Linked DNA regions of Homo sapiens. The protein of the gene in region 2 purifies or fractionates together with the protein of the main gene of each other region. This does not show direct contact. Each region holds a gene or a part of one and is shown on either strand. Other genes may lie near its edges. The genes, in order: SGO2, SPATS2L and SULF2.

Region 1 (3,654 bases), 94 kb from region 2:
AAGTATGAATGTAATCAAAAGTGGCTTAAGGTATAATCCAAAAAGGTAAATGATTATTTTTTTCATTTAAGCCTACATTAATCATCTATGTACCAGGTGCAGGGGAAAGATGACAGGATATGGTCTCTGCCCTCATGGAATGCATGGTACAATGCGGGTACAGACAGTGTTTTCATACAATGTAAGAAGTATAACCTTAGAGATATACACAGAGTTTAAAGGAAGTACAGAAGAGATATACCCAATCCAAGGTGGGGAAGGGGGTTGGAGAAATAGGAAATCTTAAATTTGTCTATTAGATTTATGGCCTATTATGGAAACAGGAAGATAAAGAAATCATTACATTATAGTATTACAAGAGTAATGGCTACAATACACAATGCAGAGGAGAAGCGATTAACTGTGACTGGGCAGAGGAAAAGGATCAGAAATAGCTTCACTGAGAAGCAGCAGTTGATGTTGAGCCATGTAAGACCAACCTCCCCATGCCTCCATTTCCTTCCCAAGCCTCCTTGCCTCCATCTGAAGAGATCTGAAAAAAAAAAAAAAACAAAAAAAAAAACAAAAAACTCTGTCACCTGCACCTGCCTAACCCTCAATACTCAGCCTCCCCACCACTACCTGCCTTGAGTCCACAGGACTCAGCTCACTATGTCAATCCAGGACTCAGCTCACTTTATCAATCATGGCAAGAATCCCTCAACTCCTGGGTCACGTTCATTCCCCTCACTCGAATCCCCTAAGTGCTACACATTCCTCATCTGGTCCTGTGGTAAGCTGGAAAATGGTCCCCCAAAGTTATTAGATCCCTTTAATTCTAAACCTCATGTGGAAAAAGGGCCTTTGAAGATATGAATAAATTGAGGATCTTGTAATGGGGAGATTATCCTGGATTATCCAGGCAGGACTAAATACTATCACAAGAGTCCTTACAAGAGACAGCAGAGACAGGAGTGATGCAGCCACATGCCAAGGACTGCCAGCAGCCATCAGGAATTGACAAAGCAAGGAACAGATTCTCCTGAAGAGCCTCCAGAGAGAGTGCAGCTGGGAATACACCTTGAGGTGGGAAAACCAGTGATAACTGAATTTAGACTTCTGGCCTCCAGAACTGTGGGGAAATACATTTCAGTTGTTTTAAGCACCTCATTTATGATAATTTGTTACAGCAGCCAAAGGAAATGAATACAGCCTGCCTATCTTACCCTTGCCAGACTCATGAGGTCCTCTAGAACTCACATTCCATCATCAACCAAACCTCTACAGCCTCAATCTCTTCTCTGAATGTTCCCTTCATCTTCTTGAACCACCCTCTCCCCTGAGGACACAGATTCTCCTGCAGTCCTGTCAGGCAGGTGCTGTTTTCCCTCCCACACCCCTTCTAGAGGCTACAACACATTCATGTCTGCAGACCATTCATCTTCCCTCCTCCCTAAAAATTCCCATCCTTGAATATACTGTCACTAGACTCTATTACCCCTTTCCCTTCACTGCTGTTATCAATCCCTGGGTCACTCCTCTTTATGAATTATTTCATATCCTCACTCATTGTTATTCTCTCTCAGAACACTGAAGCAACCTGTGGAGAACTTTCTCAAAACTTCCATTGCAATTACCTACATACCATACCTGTATCTGTGTATCTGTTTTCTCTCCTGTTGTTAGGGATCAACTGTGTTCCTAGATACGGATCCATGCACTGGATCCCATGCCTTCCTGCCTCCTTAAAGACATCACTCCAACAATTCTTTCCCGATATCATCAATTTTTTTCCTTTTCCACTGGACCATTCTCATCAATATACAAACACACTGCTATTTCCTCACCTTAAAGAACCCTCTTTTGTTCCCACTTCATACTCAGACTACCACTCCAATTCTCTGCAGATCTTTACAGCAAATCTCCTTGAAAACATTGTCTATACTCAGTTTCCAACTTTCTCATAAACCTACTTCAATCAGGCTTTCACTTAGACTATTCCACCAAAACTGCTTTTTTCCAAGATCTCTGATGACTTCTGTGCTGCTAAATCTAATAGTCAATTCTCAGTCTTCATCTAACTTGATCTATCAGCAGCATTTTAATGTGGTTAATTTCTCCTTCCTCAAAAATTGTATTTCCTTGGCTTCCAGAACATCAAACGCCTATGTTTTTTTCCTACCTACCTACCTACCTGTTCCTCCTCTGTCTCTTTTACAGGTTCTTCCAACCTCTAACGGGGTCTTTCCTTGAACTTCCTCTCTTTATCTACACTCCCTTCTTTGGTGATTTCATACAGTCTCATCACTTAAAATACCAGCCAGATGCCAAGAACTCCATAATTTATGTCCTCAGTTTGGATCTCTTTCCTGAACACTGGATTCATGTATCCAGCTGTCTACTCCACAATTCCACTTTAATAACTAAAGTAGATGCATCAAATTTAACTTGTCCAAACCTGCTTCACTCAGAGCATTTTCTATTTCAGTTCATGGTAATTTCATCCTTCCAGTTGCTCAGGCCAAAAATCTCTCTCATATCTCAACTTACCTTCACAATATATTTAGAATCTGACCAATTCTCAGTATGTCCATTGCTGCCAACCTAGTCAGAGGCACTACCATGTCTCACTTGAGTTTCTGCAACAGGCTTTGACTCCCTATTTCCACTGCTGCTGTCCCTACAGTGAACTAATCTATACAATCTAAAACTCTCCCATGGTTCCCACTTCTCTCCAAAGTCCTTAGTACGGTCTCTCCACTAGCTCTACACTTCTCTAATTTGAACTCCTCCTCCTCTCCCTCTATCGCATTCCCCTCAGGCCATACTGGCCACCAAAATCTAGCTGTTTGGAGCATATGCCAGGCATTCTTCAGCCTCAGGTCCTTTATACTGGTTATTCTGCATTTAGAATAAATGCTGTTTAGAAACATCTTCCTCCAGATATACAAATGGCCCATTCACTCTCCTCCATCAAGTCTCTTCAAATGTCACCCTCTCAGTGAGGTCACTTAAAACTGTAGCTCCAGGCTGGGTGCAGTGGCTCATGCCAGCAATCCCAGCACTTTGGGAGGCTGAGGTGGGTGGATCACCTGAGGTCAGGAGTTCGAGACCAGCCCAGCCAACATGGTGAAACCCGTCTCTACTAAAAATACAAAAAAATTAGTTAGGTGTGGTGGCAGGTGCCCGTAATCCCAGGTACTCAGGAGGCTGAGGCAGGAGAAATGCTTGAACCCAGGAGGTGGAGGCTGCAGTGAGCTGAGTGAGATCAAACCATGGCACTCCAGCCTGGGTGACAGAGTGAGACTCCGTCTCAAAAACAAAAAAACAAAAAACAAAACAAAACAAAACGAAACAAAACTGTAGCTCCTTCCCTCAACATCTATCACTATCTAACATACTATAGATTTATTTATTGTCTGTCTTCCCCAACTAGAATTTAAATTCTAGGAGGTCATGGATTTTTATGTTTTATTCACTGATATATTCCCCAGCGCATGGAATAGCGCCTTACAAATGATATCAACACAGTAAATATTTGTTGAATGAATAAGTAAGTCTTAGAAACTAAAAACTTGTCAGGCATCAAGATTAGGAAGGGCATTCCAGGAAGAAAGAATGGCATGTGTAAATGCATGAAAATGAAACATTTAAGAAAATACAAGTGGTCCCTTG
Region 2 (3,654 bases):
GCTTGCTTGGGTTACAAGGCTGCTCAGCTGACCACTGTAGGCCATCTGACCTCTCTGTTGTTCCATGTATAGGTTTGGGGTTCCCATCTAAGGATAGTTTCTGTTGCAGTAGTCTGTTGCCTTCTGTAAGAAAACACCAAATAATGACTGTGAAGTGATAAACTAAAAACACTGACGATAAAGTGATGGAGGATGCCAAGATTTTTGTTTTTGTTTACATATTGGCAATAATGCCTTTCATTGCAAACAGTCAAGAAACTGTTTTAAAAGAATCCCCAGAAGATTAGAGGGTGTACTAGAAGAGCCTTGTATTTTGAGTAGAAAGACCTGGGCATGTTTTGGCTCTGGTAATTACTTGCAGAGTGACCCTGGGCATCTCTGAGCCCTAGTTTCCTCATCCATAACTATCCAGGAAGGTTATTAAGAGGCTTATAGAAGATGAGCAGTGCCTTTTCCCCCCTGCTATTCCAGTAAAGGCTTATGAGTCTTTTAAGTACAATTTCATATTGAGGCTATAAAAATGTAGCCCTCCTATCTCCAAGTGCTACATTAATGTCTTGTGATATTTCATTCCGAATTAATGAAGGCAGAAGCGTGACTGGAGATAGAGCAAAAATGAAGTGACAACAGATACTATAATCATTGCATCTAATTTATGGAGGGCTTAAATCAGAAAACATCATCATAATATCTCAACTATATTTAAAATCTAGGGAGTCAGATTCTCTCTGGAGATTTAATAGATGTGGCAATCAATTAGCAGGATGTTGCTTTTGGCATCTTTTAAAGGTAGGTTCCCATTTAGTTATTGCTGGAATGAATTAAATAGCATGTTAGTGGCCTGAAACGGAAATGTATCACTCTTAACATCTTACTACCAGAGAAAGTTTTGGGTGTGAGAAAAGGGAAGCCAGTGTGCTCTTGAAGGCCAGGTTCTTGTAGAAAGCTTGATGAGTGCAGTTTTGATCTAGGAGAACCAAGTTCTGGTATTCCTTATGTCCTGGGTGACCTTGTGGGAATGTCTTCACTTGTCTGGCTGACTGGCTTGCACTCAAACAGAACACAGTCATCTTTGTAAAACCCAGCCTTTTCAGATAGTCACCCTTGCCCTGCTTCTCTCTACTCCCATGGTACCTTGCTTTACTTAAAACCATGGTACCACGGTTTTATATTTTAACACAAGGCTTCCATATCTGCCCCTCACCCCTGCCTTGCAGAGGCTGCAATCTTCCCAAGGGCAAACACTGAGTTCAATTCTGTTTTGAAGCCCTAGTACTTGTGTCTGGCTCGATGGCTTTCTGTAGAATTATGATCTAATTAAAGTACATTTGAAACAATTTCATAGAAAAAAATAAAAAACAATGAATATCTTACCTGACACAGTCAGAGACTACACTTGAAAAAATACAAAGGAATATGATCTAGGTCCTAGTCAATTTGATTTTAGACATTAGTCCATTCATGATCAATATAATTAGACTTCAGTTGAATCCATCATTCATAACTTACATATCAAGAAAGCACAACATACTTTCTATGAGCTGAATGAATACCCTTAAAAATTTACTCACAGTACACAAAATGTTCAGCAAAGGTAGTAAACAAAGTACATAAGTACTGAAAACAGCATTTCCTCCAGTAATAAAACAGATTCAAATGGTAGTATGCAATTTTATCCTTAGTGATATTAAGGTAGAACTTCACTATAAGGCACTGGCTGTCAAACTTCAGTGTGAAATGAGTTTCCCTTGGTACTTATTACACATGCAACTTCCCGAACACCATTTCTAGAGATTCCAGTTCAGCTGTGGGCCCAGGCTTCTCCTCCCCAGGTGATTCTGTTGGAGTGGAGATGGGTGGTACCAGCCACCCAGAGAAACCCTACTGTAAAAGATTAAAAAACTAATTTTATGTTGAGTCTATAAACATTTGTGTTAAAACAATGACACGTCCAAACTGGTTCCAAGTCACTACCTCTCTAAATTCCAGTTGAGAGGCAGTCTGGATGAGATACTATAAATTGAGAATTCTGGGTTAGGCTGTTTTTGCATTGCTGTAAGGGAATACTTGAGCCTGGGTAATTTTTAAAGAAAAGAAGTTTATTTGGTTCATGGTTCTGTACGCTGTACAAGAAGCATGATGCCAACATCTGCTCAGCTTCTGGTGAGGGCCTCAGGAAGCTTACAATCATGGCAGAAGATGACTGGGAGCCAGCATACCACATGGTGAGAATGGGAGCAAGAGAGTGAGGGGAGAGGTGCCACATACTTTTAAACAAGCAGATCTCACATGAAGTAACTGAGCAAGAACTCGCTTATCACCAAGGGGATGGTGTTAAACCATTCATGAGGGATCTGCCCCCATGATCCAATCACCTCCCACTGGGCCTTACCTTTGACATTGGGAATCACATTTCAACATGAGATCTGGAGGGGACAAACATTCAAACCATATCAAATTTAAAACACAGATCTTCGTGTATAGTGTCGTAAAGAGATCATATTCTTGAAAATAAGGGGATTTATACTATAACTTAATGGAAACAATGACCTTAGAGCAGAGGGAAAAAATTATTGTAATGAAATGCAAAAGAATTTTAAATGGAAGCCAAGCATGCAAATGAGCATAGGCTCATTAACCTAGAGCTGAAAACATTTTATTTGTGTATCAGAGAACTGATATATGGTCTACTGGTTCGTTTCAACATTCCCCATCAGATATCAATTGAGAAATGTGAGTAGAGATTTTTTTTAGGTCCTCAAAAGCTGTCTCATTACTAGTGAAATCACTGAACATTAAAATCTTCAAGACCACTTGTACATATTTGCATATATGCATGTATGTCTGACATGCATGTATGTCTTGTTCATCATTACTGCATGTGTTTGATATCTTGCAGATACATAATAAATAATGAATGTATCAGTGTTACTTTAGTATAGATCTGTCTTCAAATATAGTAAAACTCTGGGACTCTTGCAGATGAAAACTGGTGGAGCGTTATAGAGCTATAACAGAAAGTCACTGTATCCAGTGACTTTCCTCTAACATTATAGTCCAGAAATACCATCAGCTCTCCATTTATCGGGAGTCCACTTGTAAACTTCAACAGGTTGTAGCTCAATGGGGGCTGATTCACACATAAGCCTCCAGTGTCCAGTAAGGTAGCCACTGGCCACATGTGGCTGTTGAACACTGGAAATGTGGCTTGTCCAAATTGAGATGTGCTATAAGTGTAATGTATATGCTGAAATGTGAAGGTTTAGTACAAAATAAAAAATTTAAAATATTACTTTAATAATTTAAAAAAGATTGACTACATGTTGAAATGATATTTTTGATACATTAAGTTAAATAAAATATATTACCCAATTTAATTCACCTGTTTACACTTTTTAAATGTGGCTACCAGAAAATATAAAATTATATACATACTATGTGTTAAATTTCTGTTGGATAACACTAATAGGATACACAAGGAGTGTGAGAGTTTTGATCTTCAGTGTGTAATCACTACTAATTTATATTCTAGAAAAGGGTATTTGTTTTAGTGAAGCCTTAAAATATCCTCTGCAATTTCTACATGAGAAAAGTGGTGACAGGGTGATGTATGTCTTGTTCATCATTACTGTATGTGCTTGGTATCTCGTAGAT
Region 3 (3,654 bases), on a different chromosome or scaffold from region 2:
CTCTGGATAATTGTGTCCAGTCCCACAGCTTAAAATAACATCAATATGCCGATAACTCCCAAACTTAGGTTGCCAGCCCCGACCGGCTGCAGACATCCACGTTCACCACCCACTGAGCTTTCAGACATCCAGGTGGGGTTCATCTCAAACCCAACATTTCCACGTCGGAATTCCAGATCACTCCTCCTCCCCAAAACCTTCTCTCCTATCTTCCCTATTTAGCAATCACCACGCACCAGGCTGCCTAGTCACCTTTGACTCCTTGGCAGGATACATCATGAATATTTGGGCTGAATCATTTTTCACTGTGGGGTCATCCCGTACATTGCAGGTTAAGCAGCATCCCTGGCCTCTACCCTCTAGATGCCAGTAGCAACCCTTCCCCAGTTGGGACAACCTATACTGTCTCCGGATAGTGTTAAAATGTTTTCTGGGTGTCAAAATCACCCTCGGTTGAGAATCAAAGCCCTTTCCCTCACTCTGTAATCCAATCCACTAGGAAGTCCTGTGGGCCCTACCTCCAAAATACATCTCCAATCCCCATTTCACTCCATCTCCATTGATACCACCACGGTCCAAGCCACTCTCGGGCCCTCTCTGTTGCCTAACAGTCCCGGTGATACCACTTCCATCTGCACAGCACGCCTCTCACAGGAGCCAGCAGGATCTTCTTGAAACACAAATCATATCATTCTCTGACTTAAAACCCTCCAATGGTTCTCCATTTTATTTTTTAATTTATTTTTGAGATGGAGTCTTGCTCTGTCACTCAGGCTAGAGTGCAATGGCACAATCTCAGCTCACTGCAACCTCCACCTCCTGGGTTCAAACGATTCTCCTGCTGCAGCCTCCCGAGTAACTGGGATTACAGGTGTGCGCCACCGTGCCTGGCTAATTTTTGTATTTTTAGTAGAGATGGGGTTTCACCATGTTGGCCAGGCTAGTCTTGAACTCCTGACCTCAGGTGATCCACCCGCCTTGGCCTCCCAAAGTGTTGCGATTACAGGCATAAGCCACCGCGTCCAGACAGTTATCCATTTTATTTAAAATAAAGTCTAAAATTTCTTAGCATGGCCTGTATTTCTCATCTCTGACGTGCCCTCCCCCACTTACTCCTGACCCTCTACCCTAGTTGACTTTTTTTTTTTTTTTTTTTGAGACAGAGTCTGACTCTGTTGCCCAGGCTGGAATGCAGAAGTGTGATCCCGGCTCACAGCAACCCCTGCCTCCCGGGTTCAAGTGATTCTCCTGTCTCAGCCTCCCAAATAGCTGGGACTACAGGCACGTGCCACCACACCTGGCTAATGTTTGTATTTTTAGCAGAGATGAGGTTTCACCGTGTTGGTCAGGCTGGTCTTGAACTCCTGACCTCCAGTGATCTAACTGCCTCAGCCTCCCAAAGTGCTGAGATTTCAGGCGTGAGCCACCACGCCTGGCCTACCCCACTTGACTTCTATTTGTGTTTGGGGCAGGTGTCTTGGACAGGCCCCTCCCACCGCCTCTGGGCCTTTGCACTAGCTGTTCCTTCTACCTGGCATGCTCTTCCCCCAGATCTTTCCAAGGCGGACTCCTTCCTAAAATCTAGGTCACAGTTCAAAGGTCACATCCTCACAGAGGCCTCCCTGACAGCCTGCCTAAAGTTGCCTCCCACCCCATCACATCATGCAGTCATTTTTCTTTTAAATTTTTTTTTGAGACTGAGTCTCACTTTGTTGCCCAGGCTGGAGTGCAGTAGTGCGATCTCAGCTCACTGCAACCTCCGACTCCTGGGTTCAAGCGATTCTGGTGCCTCAGCCTCCTGTGTAGCTGGAATTACAGGCAAGCACCATCACACCTGGCTAATTTTTGTATTTTTAGTAGAGAGAGGGTTTTGCCATGTTGGCCAGGCTGGTCTCAAACTCCTGACCTCAAGGGATCCTCCCACCTCGGCCTCTCAAAGTGCTGGGATTATAGGCATGAGCCAGCACGCCAGGCCTAGAGCATTTTCCCCGCCTTCTGACAGCCCCTGCATTAGGCAGGAAGACAAAGAGGCCCACGCTCCAGAGCTCTCTTCGCCAAACCCTCCTGCTGATATAGAATATACACATGACATATTGGTCATGCCCCCCAGCATCCAGGACCCTCCCTAGAAGTTTGATTCAACAGGATCTGGTCTTTGCCTTTTTAAACAAATACAGCCAGATGATTCTCATGGTGGGAGGTTAGACAAACACTGCCCCTGGCCCCCCGAAAGCACAGGATCAAGGCCAGGCCCCATCCTTCAGACAGTAAGGCAGAAAAGTCAGGCCTTTGATGCCTCCTGGCCCTGGTGGAAGGGAGAGGCATTGCCCAGGCAGCGTGTTTCCCCAGTCTCCACCTTGGCCAAAATGAAGATGGGTCCATCTGGCCAGCATTGCTCACATTAGTGGCCCATCATCGCAGGCACTGGCCATCTGCCTCTCCAGCAACCGGGCTTCCCTTTCACTGGGGACTCCCCGTGCTGTTTTATTCCAGGCTTTGGGGTCTCAGCAGTCAGCCTCCATCCAGCTCCAGGGAGAGGCCTGTGAGCCTGGCTTAAGCCAATTGTTGGCAACTCATTTCCTTAGCCAGTGACTGGTTTGGACAAAAAACAGTCCAATCAGAGGGAACCATGGGGCTCAGGTGTGCATTGCCAGATCAGAGGCTTGTTCTTTCCTTTTGGGCTTAAACCAGAGGGGATGAGACCCCTCTGCTCCATGACATCTGTCCTGACACCTAAGTTATGGTAACAGTCAATGCCTACTGAAGGCTCACCTGGGTCAGACGCCCTGCTAAGCACTTGACATTGATCATCTCATTTCATGCTTACCACAAGCAGGAGACAGGTGCTATGATCATCATCATTTGTTGGATGTGAACATCAAGGCACAGAAAGGTTAAGTAGCATGCCCCAGATCCCACTGCTGGGCAGGGAGCCAGGCAGTCTGGCTCTCCTAGCCACGGTGCCCACAGCTGCCAGGGACTGCCCGCCCCAGAGCTGGAGAGACATCAGCCTCATGGAAGGCAGAGGAGCGGTGGATAGGAATGGATTCTCATTACAAAATCTGAGCTGTGGGTCCAGCTGTGTCTGAAGCTAGAGTTAGTCACCTTAAGACTTTTGGTTATGAAAACCAGTAAGTCCACTTCTTTTCTCCTTAAGCTGGCTTGAGTTTTTTTCTTCTCTTTTTCCGTTGCTTGCAAGAGAAAGGAACCTGATTACTTTACAGTTCTTCTAGGCAAGTACCCCTAACTGATACTCCATTTGCAACTTGCACACAGCAGCTGCTCAGTAAACACCAGCAGATACGGATGGACTGCTCTCCCTTCCGGTCCATTCACTGCTGGATCTGTACCCTGACACCCAACTGTGGCCAGCCCAGCGCTTCTTCCCCTTTAGGCTCCAAGTGAGGCCTCGTTCCCTAGCAACCACCCCAATTAGGCAACCATGCCATTTATCGGGATGCCAATTAATTATAACGATCTTAATGCCCTCCCAATTAGACAGTGCCTTCAATCCGGCTGGGCCAGGGCTGTCTGTAGATCTCCACCAAGGCCCATTCCAAGGAGGCCCAGAGAAAGCAGGTTTCAGGGAGGGCCCCCTCACCTGCAGATCAGCATTGAGAGAGGCCCCCATCTTCCACATCCGCCCAGGCCTGA

The links.
Region 1: the proteins of SPATS2L (region 2) and SGO2 purify together in Homo sapiens (affinity purification with mass spectrometry; one large-scale study listed by BioGRID and IntAct). This does not show direct contact.
Region 3: the proteins of SPATS2L (region 2) and SULF2 purify together in Homo sapiens (co-immunoprecipitation; one large-scale study listed by IntAct). This does not show direct contact.

The regions. Positions count from the first base shown.
Region 1 is NC_000002.12:200,529,181-200,532,834, reverse strand, and holds part of SGO2 (shugoshin 2), read right to left. Parts: intron 1,060-3,654; exon of another isoform or gene 969-1,059; coding exon of another isoform or gene 934-968; intron 533-933; coding exon of another isoform or gene 480-532; intron 1-479. UniProt on the Homo sapiens protein: Cooperates with PPP2CA to protect centromeric cohesin from separase-mediated cleavage in oocytes specifically during meiosis I. Has a crucial role in protecting REC8 at centromeres from cleavage by separase.
Region 2 is NC_000002.12:200,435,591-200,439,244, reverse strand, and holds part of SPATS2L (SPATS2-like protein), read right to left. Parts: intron 124-3,654; coding exon 1-123.
Region 3 is NC_000020.11:47,778,879-47,782,532, forward strand, and holds part of SULF2 (extracellular sulfatase Sulf-2 isoform a precursor), read right to left. Parts: intron 777-3,654; exon of another isoform or gene 1-776. UniProt on the Homo sapiens protein: Exhibits arylsulfatase activity and highly specific endoglucosamine-6-sulfatase activity. It can remove sulfate from the C-6 position of glucosamine within specific subregions of intact heparin.